Homo sapiens: one gene and its partner. The protein of the gene in region 2 interacts with the protein of the main gene of each other region in a pairwise test. Each region holds a gene or a part of one and is shown on either strand. Other genes may lie near its edges. The genes, in order: ARK2N and JAKMIP1.

Evidence for each region.
Region 1: the proteins of JAKMIP1 (region 2) and ARK2N interact in binary tests that used the Homo sapiens proteins (3 or more experiments, as listed by UniProt).

The regions. Positions count from the first base shown.
Region 1 is NC_000018.10:46,209,399-46,221,938, reverse strand, and holds part of ARK2N (protein ARK2N), read right to left. Parts: intron 6,129-12,540; 5' UTR 6,059-6,128; coding exon 5,344-6,058; intron 1-5,343. UniProt on the Homo sapiens protein: AMPK substrate important for exercise capacity and skeletal muscle function.
Region 2 is NC_000004.12:6,097,737-6,110,276, reverse strand, and holds part of JAKMIP1 (janus kinase and microtubule-interacting protein 1), read left to right. Parts: intron 1-4,309; coding exon 4,310-4,804; intron 4,805-12,540. UniProt on the Homo sapiens protein: Associates with microtubules and may play a role in the microtubule-dependent transport of the GABA-B receptor. May play a role in JAK1 signaling and regulate microtubule cytoskeleton rearrangements.

The DNA of each region.
Region 1 (12,540 bases), on a different chromosome or scaffold from region 2:
GTGAGTCTCTTAAATAGCTACCAAACTACAACCAGATTACAAAAGGCTTAAAATAGGGACATGAGGCTTTTAGCCACTGAAATCCTTTGATATTCAATCTAGGAAAAAGGTCAATTACTGCGCTTCATGGATTCACTATGTGGGTTTGGGATCTTCAACCATGAATCCTCCTCACTGCCTTATATTTAAAATTTGCCAAGCAATTAAACCCCCAAAAGGTTAAAAAGCCTCAAAAATTAGTAAGAAAAAACACGTCAGAAGAAAAATGTGCAAAGAATATGAACAGACTTTACCAAAGGAATACAAATAGCTAAACGTTTTTCAATTTCACTAGTGATCAAAGAAATGCAAATTAACATCAAAATACCTTTTTTTTTTTTTTTAATGGAGTCTTGCTGTCACCCAGGCTGGAGTGCAGTGGCATGACCTCGGCTCACTGCAACATCCACCTCCCAGGTTCAAGTGATTCTCCTGCCTCAGCCTCCCGAGTAGCTGGGACTACAGACGCGCGCCACCACACCCGGCTAATTTTTCTTTTTTTTTTTTTGTATTTTTAGTAGAGATGGGGTTTCACCATGTTGGCCAGGCTGGTCTCGAACTCCTGACCTCAGGTAATCCATCTGCCTCAGCCTCCCAAAGTGCTGGGATTACAGGCATGAGACACCACACCAGCAAGATATCATTCTTCTATCAAATCAGCAAGCTTTTAAAAAAAATTAATATTCAATAGCAAGAATACAATGCATGAACACTCAAGCTCCCAGGTGAAATAAACTTATTTTTGTTTTTGTTTGGATTTTTTTGAGACAGAGTCTCGCTCTGTCACCCAGGCTGGAGTGCAGAGGCTCAATCATGGCTCACTACAGCCTCTGCCTCCTGGGCTCAAGCAATCCTCCCACACCAGCCTCCGGAGCAGCTGGGACTACTGGTACATGCTGCTACACCTGGCTAACTTTTGTATTTCTAGTAGCGATGAGGTTTCACCAAGTTCACCAGGCTGGTCTCAAACTCCTGGCCTCAAATGAACCACCTGACTTGGCCTCCCAGAGTGCTGGGATTACAGGCGTGAGCCATCGCACTCAGCTTAATTATTTTTTAAAAGCAGTATGGCAGTATGGCAGTATGGCAGTATGTGGTCAAGAGCCTTAAGTGTTCATACCCTGAACGTATAACAGCAAAAACTTAAAAGAGCCCAAAGGACCATTAGGGAAGTTATTTTTATAATTAGCTAAATTATTCAAAATCCATATGTTCTAGGGAGAATATTTAGTGTTCTGGTTAAATGCTCAAAATGCAATATTAAGAAGGAAAGGACGACATATGCAATACCCAGACAAATTTTGTTATATATCATGGAAGACAACATATTCAAATGTTAACAAAAGCAGAATTGTGGGTGATTTTAACTTTCTACTTCAAATATTTCTATTTTCAAAAATTTCTACAAAGAATTTGTCACTTAAAAATATTTTTTAAATTTCTAAGCAAGAGTTAACTGATCAAGCATAATAAGTTAATTATCTCTACCAGAGAAAAAAACTATGAGGTAAGATGATAGCTGGTCATGATGCAGCTCACTGCATAAATATGTATGGTGAGTAATGGGTGCTGAGATTTTGTCTTGAAGTGGGGCTGAGCTGGTCTAGCCTGGCTGCATGGATTGAGAATTCAAGTAAACTTAAACAGCTGTCCTCAGTAGCCTCAATGACATTCTCCAAAAGAAATGAGATTTTCAAAGGCAAACAAACCAAGACAACCGACTCTTACCTGCCACGAGGGGTATTATTTTTGGAACTTCGGTGTGAATAAGCATTTAACCACAAAGCAGGTCATTAAAGACAAGACAAGATAAAGCTACCCTGTATGGAGGTCCACTCTGCTAAATATTTATGAAAAACAGTTACTGGAAAAACTTTTCCCCACTGACCATGTACACCGATGCACGTATGTTAGTATGTTCAAAAAATTAACTTTTTCAAACTGAATGAAGGCTAATGTCCATTATTTACATTAAAATCAAAATCCCTCCAACTACAGATTTTATAGAGCTAGTCTCAAAACTGCTTTTACAGAGAAACTGACCCCCCATGAACAGTAATACTCTAATCATAAAACTGCAGAGCATGATCAAAGCACAAAAAGATAATGCATAAGGAAACCACTTGATAATGGCCGGGCGTGGTGGCTCACACCTGTAATCACAGCACTTGGGAGGCCAAGGCAAGCGGATCACAAGGTCAGGAGATCAAGACCATCCTGGCCAACATGGTGAAACCCCGTCTCTACTAAAAATACAAAAAAATTAGCTGGGCATGGTGGCACACGCCTGTAGTCACAGCTACTTGGGAGGCTGAGGCAGGAGAATCGCTTGAACCTGGGAGGCGGAGGTTGCAGTGAGCAGAGATCGCGCCACTGCACTCCAGCCTGGTGACAGAGCAAGACTCGGTCTCAAAAAAAAAAAAAAAGAAATCACTTGATAAAAAGCCTTGATACTCAAGATAACCATCACATAGTACTTTTACATGAATTCACTATAAAATATTATAAATTTACTATAAAATGCCCTTTACTCAACTCTAAGTCTGCCAAATGAAAGTACTGCCAGCATTATTTTGATATGATACCTCCAAACAGATTCTTAAAACATCAATATATTTCCAAAAACTTCAAAGAGAGATGATCTAGTGCCGATACTAAGCTGCCTGTCAGTTAACTGCTAACTTTAAAAAATCGTCATAAACATCTGTTGCCCAGATATCAAACTCAATTAAAGTATGATCATGCACTACACTGGTCTGCATTATTAATTATTTGCACTCTCTAAAAGAATATGCATTAACAGTTACAATTATTTGGCATAACATTTAGGATTAAGGTATTAGGATATCCTAACAGGAATTATTTAGGATAATGCCTTCAACTTTTAAGCTGAGCCCAAACAAAAGCTTATAAAGAGCATTTTCTGAATTACTAAATTGGTTGTACCTTAATGAAAGAGTATGGCAATAATCGGTTTTTACTTTTCCACTTGGTTTCCATTCTGTGTAAACAGCTGAATTAACATTCCGACATCCAAGAGATTCTGTTAGGCCCATCCAGCTTAAGTTCACCTGAATGTCCATGTTGTTGAACTCAAGTCAGTTCATAATTTATCCTACCTTTACAATTTAGGCAACTTTTCGACAACTGCTCTTACTATAAGGTTGAACGTGCCTCCTCTCTTCCCCAAAGTCATAAGGTGACTCAGTAAACTGAAAGATACATCACTGTTACATTAAAAATTCACAATGTCACAATTTTTCAAGAGACAACAATATGGACAATTGAAATGAAATTCCTAATATTTGAACTCTAAGTTGTTCCATTTTTGCTGCTTTGCATAATTCCAGTAAAGATCATTCATACCTGTCTTATGGGAATGGCAGGTATACCATAAGACCTCCCAAAACTGCCAGCACACACACAGGCAGTCACATACAGTGACCCTGTACCTCAATCTACCATTTGATTCTCCAGGATTACCTTAGAAAACTATGTGTATTTTCAAAAGCCACAAAGTTACTAAATGGTGTGAACAATAGAAACCAAACTATAGATTCAAATTAATTTACTTTGGTGTTCAGTTAGTACACAATTCAGAAGAGACAAGAAACAGACACTGGTGTTTTAAGTTTTAAGCAGTGGTCAAGATACTCAATTAGAAAGAAGATTAGGAAAATATGAACAAAGCACATCTAACCTATTTAAGCAAAACAGGGAAAGTGCCTATGAAGACATTTCTCAAGCCACCTTACAATAGGGTTCTGACTTTAAATTTTGTTTACCCACCTTCTTCCTTTCCACAAAAAGGCAAAGTATTGGGGTAGTTACATAAAATCCTGCTTAGTAAGTGGAAGTAAGTATTGTATTAAGAGTTCCATCAAGGTCTTGATTAAGAGGTTAGAAGAGGATATAGGAATGCACAATTTTACAGGTATTAATAAGGTTTTTTTAAAAATATTAATACATGTAAAACTAAAATATATACCTAAAACCTGCCTTAGAACAACCCCAAAGTCTGTTTCTCTCATACATTTAACTGATGAGCTTCATTGAAATCCCCCTCCCGGTAGTTTTATTACAAGGAACAATAGCAAAGGAATCCAATAGAGATATTAAAACAGTAAAAAGCATTTCTAAAGATCGTTTGAGACTCATATTTATATTATATGGACAAGACTTATTATCAGAACTTGAACACCTATAAAGTGCTTTAAAACCAATCATTCTTGTTACTGAATTTATATAAGTTTGGGAAGCTATAGATTCCATTAACCAATATGATTTCTCTTGAAATGTTCTTTGTATATCAGCAATATGCTGTCTTCACATGTAGAAACAGAAAGCTTTCAGAAAACAGGGAGAGAAAAAACATAGTCACCCATAAAACTTTAGAAAACCCAAACTTGCCCCTCTTCAATGTGGCAATAAACAATACTGCCATGACCTATTCAATGCCATACAGTTTACAAAATGTTCCTGATCATATTGTAAGGATCTCTTGGATAATAAGAATTCACTACTTAAGAACCATTCAGATACATCTTTCTTCCACTATGAAATCTCAAGACTGCCTTTGTATTATAGTACACAGTACCAGATGCAATAAGAATGGGGAAAGCAGATTTACCAAATATGTAATAAGTTACAGACCCTTATACCAATGAGAGCTAGAACAAGCGGATTTCTAACAAACTTTTTTAAAACTTGGGGAACTAATGGGAAATTTTTCAGAAAGACATTCTTTTCAACGTGAGGATAGAAAGATTTGTAACAAGGATAACTAGCTTCTCATGCATTGAATATGGGGGAAACACATAAAACTACTGTTTTTGGAGGAAAAATTATTAGAAAACTTTAACAAAAGATAGAATGTGTTATTTCAGACACTATAAGCTCAAGTGCAGTGGCTATATAATAAAGCAAGGTGCCTATTCCTGAGGAGAATGTACTCAGTAATGATGCCGAACAGTGAGTATTAAATCTAAGCAGTGCCAAAAAGGCAATGATTGGGAGTTCAGGTAATGTGTTACAGACAGACTTATGAGAAATTCCATTACTTAAAAATAATCTTGTCCCTATCATTAACCCTTTAATTTTGTTTTTCCTGATGTGCTAAAGTTCACTGGAAACCTCAGAACAGGTTTTATAAATTGGCCATGTCTTGTTAATAGACTGCAGTCTTCAAATTTACACAGAGCTGCAGGTCTCCTGGATTTTTTCAAGTGTCACTCATCTAACTGAACCTGATAGCTGAGAAATGCCATCAGGTACTTTACAGTCAGTTTAAAAAACATCCTCTACCTGGTATCTCTGCAGTGATTGTCTTGCTGCTCCCTGAAACCTCTTCATCATCATCTGATGAGCTCGTGCTTGAGTCACAAGTCAGGTCACTATCACTGGTACTACTGTCCTGCAGCAGGTTATATTTCTTCCTTGCAGCAGCCTCCCGTTTCTGCCTCAGTAGCCTGATCCTCTCCTTGTGCTTTTGGCTCCGATGACCTTTAACCTTGGCGACTCGGCCATTCTGTTTATCACTGGATTGCCGGTTTTTCTTGGCAGCCATAGTGGAAGTTTCACTTTCAGATCGGGACCGCCTAGACTTGCGCCCAACTGTGGCACCAGACACTCCTGAAGGGTCTCCTTCTACCGCCGTTTCTGCCTGAGAGGGTTCATTCTCTTCTGCGGAAGACAACGTATCTGAATCAGCCAGGTGACCACTAGAGGAAGGGGAAAGCATGCAGTGATTAGAGGAGTCACTCTCATAAACTCGGCCAGTTGTAGGCTTGTCACTCTCTGTGGATGCTAACTGAGACTCAGAAGAGTCCCTTCTCAGTTCCATCAACAAGCAGGGCATTGAAGAAATAACTGTAGAATCCGCTACACCATCTTTCTGAACTTGAGATTCCAGTTCTACAGATCCATCTTCCTCCTTGGCTGTCTCTTGTTCAGATGCTTTTGGTGGGGCTTCGGACTCAATGAGTTCTTCAACTTTTCCCACTGCCTCCTCCATCTTCATTTCAGAATTTCAAGTTAAATCATGGAGTAGAGTCTAGGAAATGATATCAAAGATGCAACAGGAAAGCAACCTGTACAAAAACACACAAAGTCAATAAACAGAATGCCAGATTATTTAGTCAACACAACATGCCTACCTTTCTAAGTGGGTGGGGCAAAACTTACTATTACACAGGCCTTTAAAATATATATATATTATTATCTGCTTGTTTGATCAACAGTCAAATTCAAAGGACTTAATACGGTCAAAATCTAAGCATACTGAGCTACTAAAAATGCCATAATATTAATCCTCTAACTTGAAAGGCCAACATGTAATGAACATTTTCAAGTTTACAATTTTATTTAAAGTGTTCTACAAAGAAATCTTCAAAACTCTGATATAATTAATATGCATTCATTGACTTTGATATAAATGAAAAAGAATGCTTTAAAACTAGTCTAGAAATGCATTACCTGGAATGACTACTTTTACATTCAAATCCAAAAAGAAAGGAGGTGGGAGGAGGGGAGTTACAATAGAGAAACATCAAATGTTTTTGTTTGTTTGTTTGTTTGTTTTTGAGACAGGGTCTTACTCTGCCACCCAGGCTGGAGTGCAATGGTGCAATCTCAGTTCACTGCAACCTCCGTTGCCCTGGCTCAAGCAATTCTCTTGCCTCAGCCTTCCAAATGGCTGGGACTACAGGCGCACACCACCACACCCGGCTAATTTTTGTATTTTTTGTAGAGACAGGATTTCACCATGTTGCCCAGGCTGGTCTCGAACTCCTGAGCTCAAGTGATCCACCCACTGTGGCCTCCCAAACTGCTGGGATTACAGGAGTAAGCCACCGTGCCTGGCCCCTACATTTATGTTTAAAAAAACAAAAACACAAACACACTCCAACTACATGCATTTGGCAAATGAGCAACCAAATACTATGCATCCAACTTGTCTGCAGTCCCCTCAATAGGAGTTGCTCTAGTGAAGCATTAAGATGAAAAGCCAGAATTTGATGCTTCCTCAATCCTACCTAGCTCCCACATACCTCATCATGCTGAATTTGAGTCTAGTGTTTAAATAGATGTTTTATCCACAATGGTCACTAAATACAGAACCCAGAAAGCCTAGTATATTCTATGAATGAATAAAGGGATTTAAGAGAAAATACTCTACACCCATTGTACACTTTGTATGCTAAATTTAGAACCTAACACTCTACCACCACTGTGAGTGATACAACTCCAATTAACCATACAGGTACAGGACATAATATTTAACCTCAAAAGCTTATGACCTATATACAGTTAAGTCCTTACTTAACATTGTCAACAGGTTCTTGGAAACTGAGACTTTAAGTGAAATGACATTTAACAAAACCAATTTTTCTCATTAACCTTATAACTAAAGGACATCATTCAAAGACCAGCAGTATCTTGTTCCATTTAAAGTCGCAGTTTCCAAGAACCTATTGAAAATCTGGTGGTTTTTAAAGAGGATGCTAAATATGGAAAACAAGTAAATACCTTGCCCTGTATGTGTTACATTACAGAAAGCAACTATCATGTCCATAGGTCACAGACACACATAACCATTATTCTATACGGTATGCTAGGTGCAATATGGCATCTCCATCATCTCACTCCATCAAGTTACCTAGATAGTTCAATCTATAGCAGACAAAAACTAGGAAATATTTGCAAAATCCTTTAAAACAGATCTAACATGCCAAGCCCACTTTTTGCTTAATACAAACATAAATATTCTATATGCCTGTTGTTTTTCATAGCCCTGTTCTCAGCTGTTGATAAAACAGGCATTCTGATTAAGTTTCCTTAACACATTCATGGAAACCAGAACATTCATGGCCACTGAAACATCTGTTAATTTAAAACAATCCTAGGCCAGGAGTGGTGGCTCACACCTGTTATCCCAGCACTTTAGGAGGTGGAGGCAAGTGGATCACCTGAGGTTGGAAGTTCGAGACCAGTCTGGCCAACATGGTGAAACCCCGTCTCTACTAAAAATACAAAAATTGGCCAGGCATGGTGGCGAGCGCCTGTAGTCCCAGCTACTCGGGAGGCTGAGGCAAAAGAACTGCTTGAACCTGGGAGGCGGAGGTTGCAGTGAGCCAAGATCACGCCACTGCGTTCCAGCCTGGGTGACAGAGCAAGACTCCATCTCAAAAAAATAAATAAAATAAATAAAAAATAAATAAAACAATCTTGTGTGTAGCCTACTTCACAAGCATATTTGTATCAATTATAATACTAATGTTGGAGGCTAAGTGAAAATCAGCATAAATATTTTTTCTGACACCATTACAAAAAAATGTAACACCTCTGAAAGCCAACAGAGGGAGTAACAGTTAAACCAACGGAGACCGTTATAAATAAAGCATGCTGTCAATACAAACACGAAATAAAATATTCACAGATACAAAATACCCCCAGGTATGAGGAATAAACCCAAGTTCTTTTTTTTAAGCCAGTCAAATTTAGCAGTGGGGGGGACAAAGATTTTCTAACTGAATAAAAATGAGAGTTAATTCTATTATGGAGATTCAAATTGTATATTCTGGAATAATGATTCTTCTTAAGGCTGGGCACGGTGGCTCACGTTTGTATTCCCAGCACTTTGGGAGGCCGAGGCAGGTGGATCACGAGATCAGGAGTTCAAGACCAGCCTGGCCGAGATGGTCAAAGCCCATCTCTACTAAAAATACAAAAATTAGCCAGGCGTGGTGGCAGGCACCTGTAATCTCAGCTACTTAGGAGGCTGAAGCAGGAGAATCACTTGAACCCGGGAGGTGGAGCTTGCAGTGAGCCGAGGTCCCGCCACTGCACTCCAGCCTGGGCGACAGAGTGAGACTTAGTCTCCAAAAAAAAAAAAAAAAAAAAAAAAAAAATTCTTCTTAAAGCTAAAATATCTGAGAAAATATACTCAGATGGAATTAATGTCAGCTATATAGGACAAGCATCAAAAGTCTCAATTTGTGAAAGAAGGCAGCACTGGATATTTTCAAAGTACATAATACAGCATCAGACTAAAAAGTAAATTTGTTAAAATGACCATACAACGCTTGTTTCTTCAAGAAATAAGTTGTGTGGATAAAACAGGTAAATCTAGATTGTTTTTCCCTGTTAAAAAAAAATGACAATATGGCACATCATTCAATTTAATGATTATCTTTCAAGTTCCTTAAATTTGAGTGTTAACTGAGATTTAATTTATACTACCTAAATTAGTAACCGGTATTGCAGTCAAAACCACTTAAATATGCTCAAATCAATCACAAAAGACTAGTATTGACCACAAACAGGACAAAAGTTAGCTCATCATGGTATGTTCATACAATGTGGCCATTAAAAAAATGAGAAAGCACTTTATATAGAGAGGTAAGAAACAGTTCTCACGCAATTTTAATGAAAAAAGATACATTATAGCATTTATGTAAATAAATAACAAAACTATATTTACATGAGTTTATCTGTAGATGCATAGACTCTGGAAAGATACTTAAGAAAATAGTAATACCAGTTGAGAAGGAAAGCAGGTGAATAAGGGAACAGGAGAAGACAGTGTGGTATGCAGTTTTGTATCTCTTGAATTTGTGATGTATACAAACATTATCTATTCAAAAATCCACTCTGACATAAAAGTCTTCTGAAGAAAAAGAAGTTGTGCTTTTCTGGGGCCATAACACTAGACTACTCTTTGGGTCAAGCTTAGTCAATAAATTCTACTATGCTTTCTTCCTATAGTGGAATTTTGCTATAATTAATTAAATACAGGAGAAAAAAGTCACAGAAAGTGAAAATATAAGCTCTGACTAAACTCCCTTCAGTGGAATAAAAACGAAGTGCCCTAACCACAGGGGGAAATGATGTCATACATAAAGATTAATCTTTCCATACAACCAGATTATTTACTGCATATATTGTTTTTGGTCAAGGGGAAAAAAATAGGTTTTTCTGGTAGGAACAGTCAAGTAGCTAGCAGTATAAAATGATATAATTGTCAAATAGGAATTGCATCACATAAATGGCATAAAAGGCTATCAACCCTCTGGGTTAATGTTGACAGTAAATTTATATTCAGTGAAGTAATAAATACACAACATTTTTCCTATTAGAACAGCACTTTCCCCCATGCTGTTCTTCCCTCCAATCTAAACGCAACCTCCTCTACATGAGTACTAGAGCTCATCTCCCTCTCATTTCCCTAATATCTTACATTATTGATTATTCCTTGGCTCTCGTCCACCTGCCACACCCAACTGGACCATTCATTCATTTTTGAAATCCTCCTTTGACCTATCACCTTCAATCTCACATCTCCCTCTCCAGGTATCATGCTCGTCTTTCACAGTCAATCTTATTGTGAGAGTTGTATAAACTTCTATTTCCTTAACTCTCACACTCCCTTCTGCAACCCAATGCAACCTGACATCTCCTTCTATCAAACCAGTGGAACAAGCCTAGGCAACATGGCAAGACCCCATCTCTACAAAAAATTTAAAATTTAGCTGAGCATGGTGGCACATGCTGTGGTTCCAGCTACTGGGGAGGCTCAGCAAGGAGAATGCCTTGAGCCCAGGGGGTCAGGGCTGTCATGAGCCGTGTTTGCAACAGTACGTTCCAGGCTGCATAACAGAGCAAGACCCTGTCTCAAAAAATAAAAACAAAAGTAAAAAAAACCAGTGGAACATTTATTACCAGGGTCATTAATGACCTCACTATCTCTAAATCCAACATATTTTGGCCCTAATTTTACTTAATATTTAAGCAACATTTTATGCCTGACGACTCTCTCTGCTCTTTAAACCAATTAATGCCTTTCTTTGGCTTCAAGGTTTCTCTATTCTTCTGGTTAGTCCTTCCCAATCTACTTTGTAGGCTTAACTTCCTCTACCAAATCTCAGGATTTAATCCTAGGTCTAGGTCCTTTTCCCATCCACCAACGTGAGTTCTTTTTTTTTTTTTTTTAAGACAGGGTCTCACTCTGTCGCCCAGGCTGGAATGCAGGGGCGCCATCCTGGCTCACTGTAACCTCTGCCTCCTTGGCTCAAGTGATCCTCCCGCCTCAGCCCCCTCAAGTAGCTGAGACTACAGGTGCAAGCCACCATGCCTGGCTAATTTTTGTATTTTTTGTAGAGACGGGGTATCACCATGTTGCCCAGGCTGGTTACACACTCCTGAGTTCAAGTGATCGACCCACCTCGGCCTCCCAAAGTGCTAGGATTACAGGTGTGAGCCACAATACCTGGCCCAAAGTGAGCTCTTCTAAACCCACATTTTCCAATACCATCCCTAGACTAGTAATTTTATTTCTCCAACTCAGATCTCTGAGCTCTATACCAGTCCACCCAAATACCCAGTTGACATCTGTATTTAGATTTTGGAAAGGTACCACAATCACATCATATTCAAATCCAGATCATCTCTGATCTACCCCACTCTGCTCCTTCTCTGGCTTTCTCTAGCTCAGTAAATAGTACTACTATTGCTATTATCTCAGTTGCTCATGTCAAAAGCCTGAGTTATCTTTGACAATGCCTTCTTCTTTACTCACTGCATCCCATCATTCACCATGTCCATCATTCACTAACTCCTATCAATCCCACCTCTTTAATAGTTTTCTAGTCTGTCCACTATTCTCCATATCCGCTGTCACCACTCTAGACACAACCTCCATCATTTATTTTCAATAGTATTGACTATCATCACCTGTCTCTTCAAACTCAGTCTTTCTCCTATGCACCAACCTGTTCTCTACATAGCAGGCAGAACAATATTTCTACAAGGTAAATATGTTCTCTTTATGAGAGAAAGTATTTTTTTTTAAGTCCTAGAAGGTAGGGTAGAGGAGGATGGGTAAAGGCAAGTTGAGATTTATCTGATGTTTTTCTCTCCTTTTAAAAGGGGATTAAATATTGCTTTTTGATCAGTGGTGAATGTGGAGGAAAACAGATTATATGCAATAATCTGAAAAAACAGTTTGTTGGCCAGGCACGGTGGCTCACGCCTGTAATCCCAGCACTTTGGGAGGCCGAGGCAGGCGGATCACGAGGTCAGGGGTTCAAGACCACCCTGGCCAACATAGTGAAACCCCATCTCTACTAAAAATACAAAAATTAGCCGGGTGTGGTGGCGGACGCCTGTAGTCCAAGCTACTCGGGAGGCTGAGGCAGAAGAATCACTTGAACCCGGGAGGCAGAGGTTGTAGTGAGCCAAGACCACGCCACTGCACTCCAGCCTGAGTGACAGAGCAAGACTCCATCTTTAAAAAACAAAACAAAACAAAAAACAGGTTGTTAATTATGGACAATGAAAATGAATTCACTTTTTAGCCCTTGTACTCTTTAAGAAACTAAGATGACAAAAGATGTGTACAGCTCAAAGAGTTAAACCATGGAATTTAAGCAGTATACAGTGCTCAAACAGGAGACAGGAACTATAAAGTATAAAGCTGAATGAGGCTACTTGTGAAAATCTGGA
Region 2 (12,540 bases):
CTCTGTGTTTGTCCATGTCTGTATTTTCTGTTCTTACAAAGACACCAGGCAAATCGGATTAGGGCCCACCCTAATGACCTCATTAGGATCTATCTCCAAATGGAATCACATCCTGAGGTCATGGGGGTTAGGACTTCAACATATGATTTTCAGGGGGACACAGTTTAGCCCCACACACGAGGCCAGCACAGTAGGTGGTATTGCAGGATTGAAAGCCAGGCCCATGCGGACCCCAGGCTGGGCCTCCCTGTTACCAGGCTGCCTCCCTGCCTCTGGGACGTGTGGCAATTTCCACTTGGATGCACGCTGGCTGATTATTTTCTCAATCCAGCCATCCATGTGGCCGCTTCAGGTTGACTTTACCCATCTGGCTGCTGGGAGAATTTCAATTCTCTGAGAATTCAGTAATGTGCTTATTGACTGGTACAAAAAACATAAATGCAAACTTTACAATTGCATTGAAGTGTTACTTTGATATGATCTCACAATCACTGTCAATGTCCCATTTAAAGTGCTGGCATTTTAGCAAAGCATCCCTGTTGAACACTGTAGGATGAAGGAGGGTGGTAAACGTGTCTGTCTATTCATCTGCAAACCCCTGGCATGCATGCTCCATGCCTGGGCTGAGTGAGAAGTGTTTGGAAGTAACTCAGAGACAGACCCTGTCCTCAAGTCGCATGGGTACAGAGCCTCACAGGAAACCAGCAATACAGCAGCCCTGGGCACATTCCATCAGAGGTTTTAGAAAATAGTGCAGGGACAAGCAGAACCCAAGGCTTCACAGGGGCAGTTTTGTGGGGGTTTTGTGGAGCATTTCCTTACTTTCTGGCATTATAAGATGCCCCAGGCTCCGCAGTGGCTCATGCCTGTAATCTCAGCACTTTGGGAGGCCAAGGCGGGCGGATAATGAGGTCAGGAGATCGAGACCATCCTGGCTAACACAGTGAAACTCTGTCTCTACTAAAAATATAAAAAAATTAGCCGGGCGCAGTGGCGGGTGCCTGTAGTCCCAGCTACTCTGGAAGCTGAGGCAGGAGAATGGCGTGAACCTGGAAGGCAGAGCCTGCAGTGAGCCAAGATCGTGCCACTGCACTCCAGCCTGGGGGACAGAGCGAGACTCCGACTCAAAAAAAAAAAAAAAAAAAAAAAAAAGGTGCCCCAGGCACATCTTGTATATTTCCTACCCCAGCGCTAGACCCAGCAGTTTCTCTAAGGGGTCCTGGTTCCTTTTATTGGAGAATGGCATTAGAAACAAAGATCCAGGCACCAGGCGTGCCCATCACTGCTGCGGTGTCATTGTTTCTAGGCCCTCTCAGCTGCCAGAACAAGGAATATATATGTGTATACTGACCTGCGTATGTACGCATACCTGTAAATATTTCCATATATGACATCTATATCCATACAAAGTCAAACATGAGTTCTTACAGATGTCCCAAGACGCATCCACTGCCGCATGGCTCCCTTCAGCCTCCTCTTGCTTGTCTGTAACCTCTTACTCCAAGTGGGAAACCTGGCTTCCCCCTCTGCCATCCACTTTCTTTGTTCAACACTATACATGTATGATGGTTTCAGAGTAGTGAACTGGTACCCATGAGATTTAGAGGGCTTTGAGCATGGAGGGTGTGGCGGGGAGGGCTGCTGCAGGTGGCTTGGGCAAGGGGGAAGTGGGGAAGTGGCCAGGCCTGGACATGGAGAGCCAGTGCTGCTGGATTGGATGAGGATGAGGATGGAAAGGGGTGAATCTGACTCACTCTCTGAGTGGGAGTGGCAAGTGAGGGTGGTGCTGGTGGTTCAGATAATTTCTCCACGCCAGCCCCCACACCCCCAGGGCATGCTCCCTCTCTTGGCCTTTGTGCCGTGGCTGCATTTAGAGTCCAAGTGCTGAGGAGCGGCTGGTGTAGGTGCCTCTACACTTGGGGTAGCTTGGAGGCACCTGGAGGTAAAGTGCTGGGCGGCTTTTTTTGGCCTGCTCAGCTGGATGGAGTGGTGGTGGGAGGGAGTGCTCTGTGCCCATCAGAGGTCACCCCAGCCTCACTCTGCTGCTTCTGTGGCATAGGTCATGTCACCTGGGCTTGGCTCTCAGCAGCTTTGGGCAGAGCTGGAGGGACCCAGCAGGGCCCTGTCCCCAGGCCCCTGCCTCTCTGTCACCATCCCTGCCCTACACACCTGGATCACCAGCCTCAGCAGCACCTCTGCCCCTCCCAGGAAGCAGCCCCTAGACGCCCCGGGCTGCCCTGCACAGGCCTCTGCCCACCCTTCCATGTTCCTCACCCCCTTTCTACCTGTGTCTCTCACACGAGGCTGCCCACCCCTGATGCAGAAAGTCAGAACCACGATAACAACAGACTTCCATTCACCCACCCACAGTCACCTCATCTTCCTCCTCTCAACGGGCCTTTGAGGGGCAGCTGTTGCCATCCCTGTTTCCTAGTAGAGGAAACTGGAGCTCTGGAAGGTTGTGTAGTCAGGGTTCTTCAAAGAAACAGAACCAATAGGTTGTGACACACACACACACACCCCCCACAGAGTGAGAGGTTATTCGTTAGTTTTAAGGAATCGGCTTATGCGGTTGTGGGGCTGGCAAATCTGAAATGTGTAGGGCAGACCAGCAGGCTGGAGATTCAGGCAAGGGTTGATCTTGCAGCTTCGAGTCCCAGTGCAGCCGGGAGGCAGAGTTCCTTCTTCCGCAGGGGACCTCGGTCTTCTCTTAAAGCCTTCGACTGATTGGATGAGGCCCACCTACATTGTGGAAGGCACCGTGCTTCACCCAGAGTCTACTGATGTAAATGTTAATCTCTTATAAAATGTACCTTCACAGCCACATCTGGACTGGTGTTTGACCAAACGACTGGGCATTGTGGCCCAGCCAAGTCGACCCACAACATCAGCCACCATAGAGGCAGAGAAATTTGCCTGGGGAAACGCAGCTCATCAAAGCAGATTAGGATCTCATTGGATCTGACCCTGCTGGCCCCAGATGGCTGTCGGCATTAACCAGGGACTTGACTGTTGCCTCGCAGGAGGGAGAACAGTCAAAACCATTTTGTCCATAACTGGGACAATTCTGTTAAATACTTAAAGTTCTGGCTTCCTGCTGCTAAATCCACTAGGAAAAGATGCTGATTGCTGCCCCCAGGGTAAGGTGGACAGAACATGGACTGGTCGCCTGGCTTCATTCCTATGATTGTGAGTATCTGGTGAAAGGAGATGTTGATCTTGTGTGTTTGCCTGGGTTGGTTTTATTTGCTTTTTTACCTGCTGTTTTAAGTAAGGATTTATCAATACTCAGGTGCCATTGTAAAACTTCTCACCTAAAATTAATTTTAACATGTGACTATGCTATCAACAGTGTGGTCTGGGGAAAAACATTGCCATTTTCCCTGGAAGCAGCTTGTCCACCAGAGGCAATTCATTTCAGGTCTTCAGAGACGGGCAGAATTCAGGAAATAAGGGCTTGTCAGGCGTTCCTGTGGAATGTGTGTTGAGTGATATTTGAAACAAAAAGGTTAAAGAAAGCATTTTGAAGTGTTTTAAGAACACACTCCCTTGGGACGTTTTATAAGTAATGTTTTGAATTGTTTGCTGATAAAATGAATAGGCTCAAGGCGGGGTGGGTTGCCTGGTAGCACAGGGTCCTCATCCCTCACCCTGGGCAGCTCACCAGACTGTCTCTGATCTTTGGCTGCCTCATGATAAAACAGAGGAGAGAGAGAGGAAGAGAGAGAGAGAGAGAGGAGAGAGGGAGAAAGAGAGGGAGCACGCTACTTCCTTCCCAAGACCGTGAGGGGTTCATGTGGCAATGTGGGTGATGCATTGGAGCCCCCAGCCCAGCTAGGGACCCCACTCAACAAGAATGGTGCCCCCTGCTCACTGCCCCCCAGGACTTAGAAGCCTGGTCTGTCTTTTCCAACTCCACAGTCCGCGCATGGGGCCCTGGAAATATATTTCTGGTTTACAATCTTTTGGGTCTTGGTGATGATTTCTGCAGGGTGTGTTTTGTGATTGAGCAGTCGTCTCAATTTACAACCTGGAAGAGATGTCAAAGGCTTGAATGCCTCTCCAGCATCCTCAGGGGGTTTCCACCCCCAGGGAAAGTCTCAGGGAACTAGCAGGAGAGATTCTAAGTGGGGCTGGCAGGAGGGTCAGGCCTGCAGGGCACTGCCGAAGGGGGAATCCATGGGAACGTGGGCCCAGGTGGGTGTCTTGGGCGTGGGGAGGCTGTGGCCAGCTCCCCCAGCTGTGACCCTGACCCTGACCCTGACCCTGACCCTGACCCTGACCGGCTCTCTCGCCGCTCTGGCTGCAGGTGGGCAAACTGCGCGAGCGGCTGCAGGAGGCGAAGCTGGAGCGCGAGCAGGAGCAGCGACGGCACACGGCCTACATTTCGGAGCTCAAGGCCAAGCTGCATGAGGAGAAGACCAAGGAGCTGCAGGCGCTGCGCGAGGGGCTCATCCGGCAGCACGAGCAGGAGGCGGCGCGCACCGCCAAGATCAAGGAGGGCGAGCTGCAGCGGCTGCAGGCCACGCTGAACGTGCTGCGCGACGGCGCGGCCGACAAGGTCAAGACGGCGCTGCTGACCGAGGCGCGCGAGGAGGCGCGCAGGGCCTTCGATGGAGAGCGCCTGCGGCTGCAGCAGGAGATCCTGGAGCTCAAGGCAGCGCGCAAGCAGGCAGAGGAGGCGCTCAGTAACTGCATGCAGGCTGACAAGACCAAGGCAGCCGACCTGCGTGCCGCCTACCAGGCGCACCAAGACGAGGTGCACCGCATCAAGCGCGAGTGCGAGCGCGACATCCGCAGGCTGGTACGTGCCGCCCCCTCCCCCGCCCGCGGGCACGCGGCCTTCCCTCCCTGCACGCATGGGGGAAATGCGGAGCTCCGAGGACCTGCTGTGCTCCAGGCATTGTTCAAAGCACTGGGGCCCCAGCAACCTCCCTCCCGTCTTAGGTGTGGTAAGGAGGCTTTGGGGCTGCAGGTAATCCGCTCAAAGAACAGTTCCCCATTTGTCAAAGGAGCTTAATGGAGACTAGCGAGGGTTGTTGCAAATGCCTCGTGATAGCGTATCTAAGTGTCGGGCATTTATTGATTCATTTACTTCAACAACCATGAGCAGACTTCCATCTCCAGGTAAGATGCCACAGGTCAGGGCAGGCCGGCCAACTGGCTGCAACAGCAAGGGAAACATATAAATTGCAAATAGTCCTGTTTTGAAAGATACTGGAGATCTGTGGAAGCTGTGGAGTGTGGATGAACTAAAATTCCAAAGGGAAGGGGAAAGAGCCCTGCCTGGGCGGCCTAATTGCCAGCTGCTTTCTTCCCTTGGGGCATTTGTGGATTCTGGGTGCGGGCTGAGGATTGGATGTCCTCAGAGAGATGAGTAGGACTTTTCTGCCATCTCAGAGTGGGCATGAAACAATGGAAACCAGAGGAGCCCCACCTAGGCCAGCTTGCTGCACAGGAGATCCTCCTGAGTCCTGGAGTGAAGGGGGAGGCTGGCGAGCCCAGCTGGAAAGGCAGAATGACAGCTCCCATGCCCTCACTGGACGTAGGAGACAAAGGGAGGGGGCCCGCCACAAACACATGACCAGTCTGCCCCTCAGGGCGTTTGTCACACTTTGAAGCTGTGTGGGGCAGGAGGCTAAGAAGTAAAGTAAGCTGAGATTTTCAGACTGGATCAAAGAGTAACAGTGATATTTACAAGAGAGACATCTTAATTATGAGGACATGGTGACATGGAGCATAAGAGGATGGGGAAAGATACACTGTGCAAGCACTTCCTAAAAGCAAAGCTGGTCTGGCTGTATTAATGTCAAAGGCTCTAAGGCAAGAAGTAATACTAAAGACACAAAAGGACAGTTCTTAATAATAAAGGGTCAATTCAGTGGGAATGCATTCAATAACAAAACCTCAAAATGTATAAAAGAAAAAAATTATCAACACTAAAAGGAGAAGCAGACAAATCCACAGTTACGGTTGGGGACGAACACGCTTCTCTCAGCAAACAGTAGAACACACAGACAAAGAATGAATAAAGACATGATTTCACCAACACAATTAACCAACGTGAACTTACCTGACAGAGCACTCTATTCCACAACTGCAGAATACTGTGGACATGACATACTTTTATCATTGTAGACCGCATTTCAAAATTTGTGGGTTGTAATTAGTCCTTAGAGCAAAACATATTTTAGACAAAAAGAAGAAATGCTGAAAATCAAGCATCTAAACTTCTATCTCAAGAAGAAAGAAAAAGAACAGCAAATTAAACTCCAGAGAGTAGAAGGAAGGAAATTTTAAAGAGCAAGAAGCAGTGAAATAAAATCAATAAAGAAAATCAACAAATTCAAGAGTTAATTAAAACTGATAAATTGACAAACATTTAGCAATATTGATAAAGCAAAACAGAGACAATAAATTACTAATATCAAAAATGTAAAGGGGGAAATACCACAGCTCCTACAGTCAATAAAACCACAGCAAACAGCATATACCAATAAACTTGAAACCTCGATAAAATGAACATATTCCTTGAATAAGCACAATGTACCAAAACTGACATGAAACAAATAGAAAATCTAAGTAGTCCTAAAGCTCCTAAATAAATTAAATCTGTAATGAATAATTTTCCTATGAAGAAAGGCCCAGGCCTAGATGGCTTCACAAGTAAATTCTTTCAAGTGTTTAAGAAAGAAGTAAAACTAATTCTAGCCAAAGTCTTCCAGAAAATAGAGAATTAGGAACACATTTTAACTAACTTATGAAGCCAGTGTAACTCTGATTCCAAAAGCAATAACATTACAGGATAAGAAAACTTTTGGATTACCTTTTATGAACATAGATACAAGAGTACGAGCAAGATATTAACATATCAAATCCAGCAATACATAGGAAGGCTAATAAGTCATAACCCAGCTGGGTTTATTCTGAAAATATAAAGATTGGCTTCATATTCTAAAATCACTGAATATAATTCAACATAATAATATGATAAAAAAGAAAAACGTGGTCAGTCATCTTAATAGATGCAGAAAAATCTGTTGGTAAAATTCAACTTCATGATATAAACTCTCCGAAAACCAGGAAAAGAATGGAATTTCTCTAATATGATAAATGGTTCTATCAAAAATCTTTTACAAGTAACATACATAATGATGAAATATTGAACATTTCCCACCCAAGTTCAAGGTCAAAACAAGATGTTGACTATTACCACTTCTAGTCAACATTGCATTGGCCAGGATGTCAAATATAAAATAAAATAAAATAAATAAAAGTTTCATTGGGAGGCCGAGGCAGGCAGATCACGAGTTTAGGAGATTGAGACCATCCTGGCTAACACAGTGAAACCCCATCTCTACTAAAAATACAAAAAATTAGCGGGGTGCAGTGGTGGGCGCCTGTAGTCCCAGCTACTCAGGAGGCTGAGGCAGGAGAATGGTGTGAACCTGGGAGGTGGAGCTTGCAGTGAGCTGAGATCGCGCCACTGCACTCCAGCCTGGGCGACAGAGTGAGACTCCCTCTCAAAAAAAAAAAAAAAAAAAAAAAAAAAAAGTCTTTAGAGAGGGAGAAAAAAGGGAAACTCATTATTTGCAGGTGCTATGGTTGTGATGTAGCAAACCCAAGACACCTGTTTTAGTTCATTACTGTTGCTATAACAAAATAACACAGACTGGGTAACTTATATATAATAGAAATTTTTTTCTTACCATTCTGGAGGCTGGGAAGTCCAAGATCTAGGCACTATCTGGCAAGGGTCCAGTTTCTGCTTCTAAGACAGTGCCTTGAATGCCATGTCCTCACATGGCAGAAGGAGTGGAATGACAAAAGAGAGGCAGGCAGCTCATATTTCTCTTATAAGGTCACTAACTCCCTTCATAAAGGCTTTGCCCTCATGACTTCATCACCTCTTAAAGACCCCATCTCCTAATACTATCACACTGATGATAAGTTTCAATGTATGAATTTTTGTGAGACACATTCAGAACATGGCAAGACCCTACAAACTATTAGAATTAATAAGTGAGTTTATCAAAGTCTACATATACAAGGTACATACACACAAATAAGTTGTTTCAATATATCAGCAGTGAACAATTAGAAAATGAAATCTTAAAAAATATCATTTACAGTAGAGCACCACAAAATTCAAATACCTAGGAATAAATCTAAGGAAAGTTGTGTAAGATGTCTCCCCTGAAAACTATAAAACATTGCTGAGAAAAACTTAAGGAGATCTAAATCAATGGAAAGGGATATCGTTTTCATCGATTAGAAGACTTAGTATAGATATCAGTTTTTCCATGATTGATCTACAGATTCAGTGCTATCCCTTACCAAAATCCCAGCAGACTCTTTTTTTTTTTTTTTTTTAACTGAGTCTTGCTCTGTTGCTCAGGCTGGAGTGCAGTGGCATGATCTCAACTCACTGCAACTTCTGCCTCCTGGGTTCAAGCAATTCTCCTGCCTCAGCCTCCCGAGTAGCTGGGATTACAGATGCCTGCCACCATGCCCGGCTAATTTTTTTTTTTTTTTTTTTTTTTTGTATTTTTAGTAGAGATGGGGTTTTGCCATGTTGGCCAGGTTGGTCTCGAACTCCTGATCTCAAGTGATCCACCTGCCTTGGCCTCCCAAAGTGCTAGGATTACAGACGTGAGTCACCACGCCCAGCCACCAGCAGACTTTTTAAATGCAGACATCGGCAAGCAGATTCTAAATTTGATGTAAAAATTGAAAGGATGTGGAATCACAATCTTGAAGAAGAGAAAAATTGGAGGTTTCATACAACCTATAACAAAGTTTACTACAAAGCTACAGTAATCAAGACAGTAGGCTGAAGGTTAGAGAGACACGTCAATGGAACAGAAGAGCCCAGAAGTACATCTTCACGTGTGTGGACAAAGATACCGTGGCAGTTCACTATAGAGAGGATGATCTTTCAATGGACAATATTGGACTGGTCAGCTATCTGTAAGAAAAAAAAACAGGAAATACACACACACACACACCACACACACTCTCTGTATATAGAGTATGAAGTCTATATCATACTACCCACAAAGATTAATTCAAAGTGGTCCATAGGCCTACATGTAAAAAGTAAAACAATATAGCTACTAGTAGAAAACAGACTATTTTCATGATCTTGGGACATGGTAAATATTTCTTAAGCAGGACACAGTACACTATTTACATAAATATACTATTCAGAGAGGGTTGTACATTGGACATGAAATAATCATTGTTCATCAAAAGACACTAATAAAAGAGAGACAAGGCAAATTACAGACTGAGAGAAGACATGTTCAATACCTATAACCACAAAGAACTTTTGTGCAGATTATAAAAACTATAAAATAATATGAAAACTCAAAAATGGGCAAAAGCTTGAAAGAATATTTCAAAAACAGGATAATTAAATGACTAACAAATATGTGAAAAGGTGTTCTACCTCATTGATCATCAGGGAACCAGAGTAAAATTACAACTAGATATAAATTCTCATCCACTAGAATGACTATTAAAAAAAAACAGACAATAGTAAATGTTGACTAGCATGTGGAGGAATGGGTACCGTCATTCTGATAGGACTTTAAAATGGTATAGCCACCTTGATAAATGGTTTTGTAGTTTCTTAAAAAGTCTAAAAAAAGGACACCTACGGACTCTGTAATTCTACTCCTAAGTATCTACCCAAGAGAAATGAAAACACATATCTATATAAAGATTTGTACATGAATGCTTATAGCATTATAATAGTCAACGAATGGGAGAAGCCCAAATGTCCTCAGTTGGTGAATGGATAAATGTGGCATGTCTATATAACACAATGTGATTCAACAATGAGAAGGTATGAAATATTGATATATGCTTCAATATCTATAACATTTCTGAACCTCAGAAACATTATGCTAAATGATAGAAGCTAGACACAAAAGACCTCATATTGTATGCTTGCATTTGTATGAAATCTCCAGAATAGCCAAATCTATATATCCAAATCTATAGTGGCTGACGGGGACTAGTTGGAATGGAGATTAGCTGTAAATGAGTGTGAGGGACCTTACTGGGCGAGGAAGGTTCTGAAACAGATTATAATGATGGCTCCACAACTTGGAAGACTTACTAAAAATCGGCGAAGTTCATGATTTATAAATTAAACTCTAAAATGTTTAAAACAAGAAAAATTGGAAATTTAAATAGGATTGATAAAAGTTTAATGGTGGATCTTGTATTTGCATTTAAAAGGAGCATATTTATAAGAGGAAGAACAGCACACAATGAAACAACACTGCCCAGGCACCAGGATGGCTAAATTAAAAAGCTAACAGTGCTGAGAAATGGCAAGGACGTGGAGCAGCCGTGCCCCTCGGTAGCATCCCATACACTAAAGTGCCCTAAAACGAAACAGAGACATCTGTTAACTCAGAATTTCTCATCAAGCAAAAAATATTATTTTACAATAAGAGTGAAATAAAGACATTTTAGGTAAAAGGAAGCTAAGATTATTTGTCGCCAGAGGCTGTACCACCAAAAATGCTAAAGGAGGTTCTGCAGGTGAAGAGAAACAATGCCAGATAGGAATTTAGTTCTCTTGGAAGGGAATAAAGAACAGGAGAAGTGGGTAAAGGAGAGTCAATGTCTGAGACGATCTCTTTTTCTCAGTGTATTCAAAACACAAGTGACTGTTTAAAGCAAAAGAATCAGATTGTATTGTGGGGTTTATGACATATGCAGACGTAAAATGCATAAAACAATCTAGAAAGGATGGGGTGGGGGTGGTTGGTGGAAAATGGATCTGTGCTCTCGCACAGTCCTTCAGTCTTGTCTGAGGGGGTGCGTGACGCTATGAGTTCAAGGAGGCTGTGACAAATCAAGGTTTAAAAAGGCAGCACAAGGAGGCACAGATAAAAAGCAAATGGGGAAATAAAATGAGAGACTAAAGAAATCTGTTTGCACTAAAAGAGGGTAGCAAAGAAGGACCAAAGCAGGGGAAAAAAACAGACGAGACAAATGGAGAAGAGACAGCAAAACGGTGGAATTAAAGGAGTCATATCAGTAGTTACATTAAATGTAAATGGACTAAACCAGTTAAAAGGCAGAAATTGTCAGAGTGGATACAAAAGTCACACTTTAAATATAAAGACCCACTTTCCCTGAAGGAAAAGGATAGAAAACATGCTCTGTGAGCAATAAATGTAGCAATAGGATGGATAAAGGTGTATTTAGTCAATGGGATATTACACAGCACTGGGAAAAAATGAATTTCCAAAACAGGCAAGAAAATGAATGAATTTCCCAGCCGTGGTGTCAGAACCAAACCAAAGAAGATGAGCACAAAAGCTACATACTATATGATTTTACTCACATGAAGTTTAAGAAGCGTAAAAACTAATCTAAGGTGCTAGAATAAGAGTGTGGATGACCTCCGGGTGTGGGGTTGATCAGGAAGCGGCAGGAGCCAGCCTTCTCGAGCATCAGGAATCAATCTTTCTTTCTTTCTTTCTTTTCTTTCTCTTTCTTTCCTTCCTTCCTTCCTTCTCTTTCTTTCTTTTTCTTTCTTTCTTTCTTTCTTTCTTTCTTTCTTTCTTTCTTTCTTTCTTTCTCTCTCTTTCTTCCTTTCCTTTCCTTTCTTTCTTTTCTTTCTTTCTTTTTCTTTTTCTTTCTTTTCTTCCTTTCTTTCTTCCTTTCCTTCTTTCTTTCTTTCTTTCTTTCTTTCTTTCTTTCTTTTTCTTTCTCTCTCTCTCTCTCTTTCTTCCTTCCTTCCTTTCCTTTCTTTTCTTTCTCTTTTCTTTCTTTCCTTCCCTCCTGCCCTTCCTCCCTCCCTCCCTTCCTTGTTCCTTCAGATGAAGTTTCACTCTTGTTGCTCAGGCTGAAGTGCAATGCTGTGATCTCGGCTTACTGCAACCTCCACCTCCTGGATTCAAGCAATTCTCCTGCCTCAGCCTCCCGGGTAGCTGGGATTACAGGCGCCTGCCACTACGCCTGGCTAATTCTTTTGTATTTTTAGTAGAGACAGGGCTTCGCCATGTTGGCCAGGCTGGTCTCGAACTCCTGACCTCAGGTGATCCACCTGTCTTGGCATCCCGAAGTGCTGGGATTACAGGCGTGAGCCACCGCACGCGACGAGGAATGTTTCTTTTCTGACCTGGGTGGTAGTTGTGTAAAGTGTGCTCAGGCAGGCGTGGTTTTGGACAGCACCTTGTTAAACCAGACTCATGCGTATCAGAACCATGTTCTCGAACTCCAAACTCGACACTACACTTTTGTTATCTCTGATTCAAGTCACAGTTACCGCTTTTCTGTCCCACAATGTAAGTGAGCCATAAAGGGCATTGCATTTTAATTATTCTTTCCGGTTCCACGGAGAGAGCTTTCACTACCTCTGAAATATTCAAAGCCAGACAAAAACCTGACATCCTGGTCTTGGGTGCTTTTGATCAAGGGAACCAGATTGCGTTTCTCCAAGCTGCCTAAGGAAGCGTGGGCCTGGCTTTTCCCATGGAATGGTTGACTCACACCATTTGTCAAATGATGATG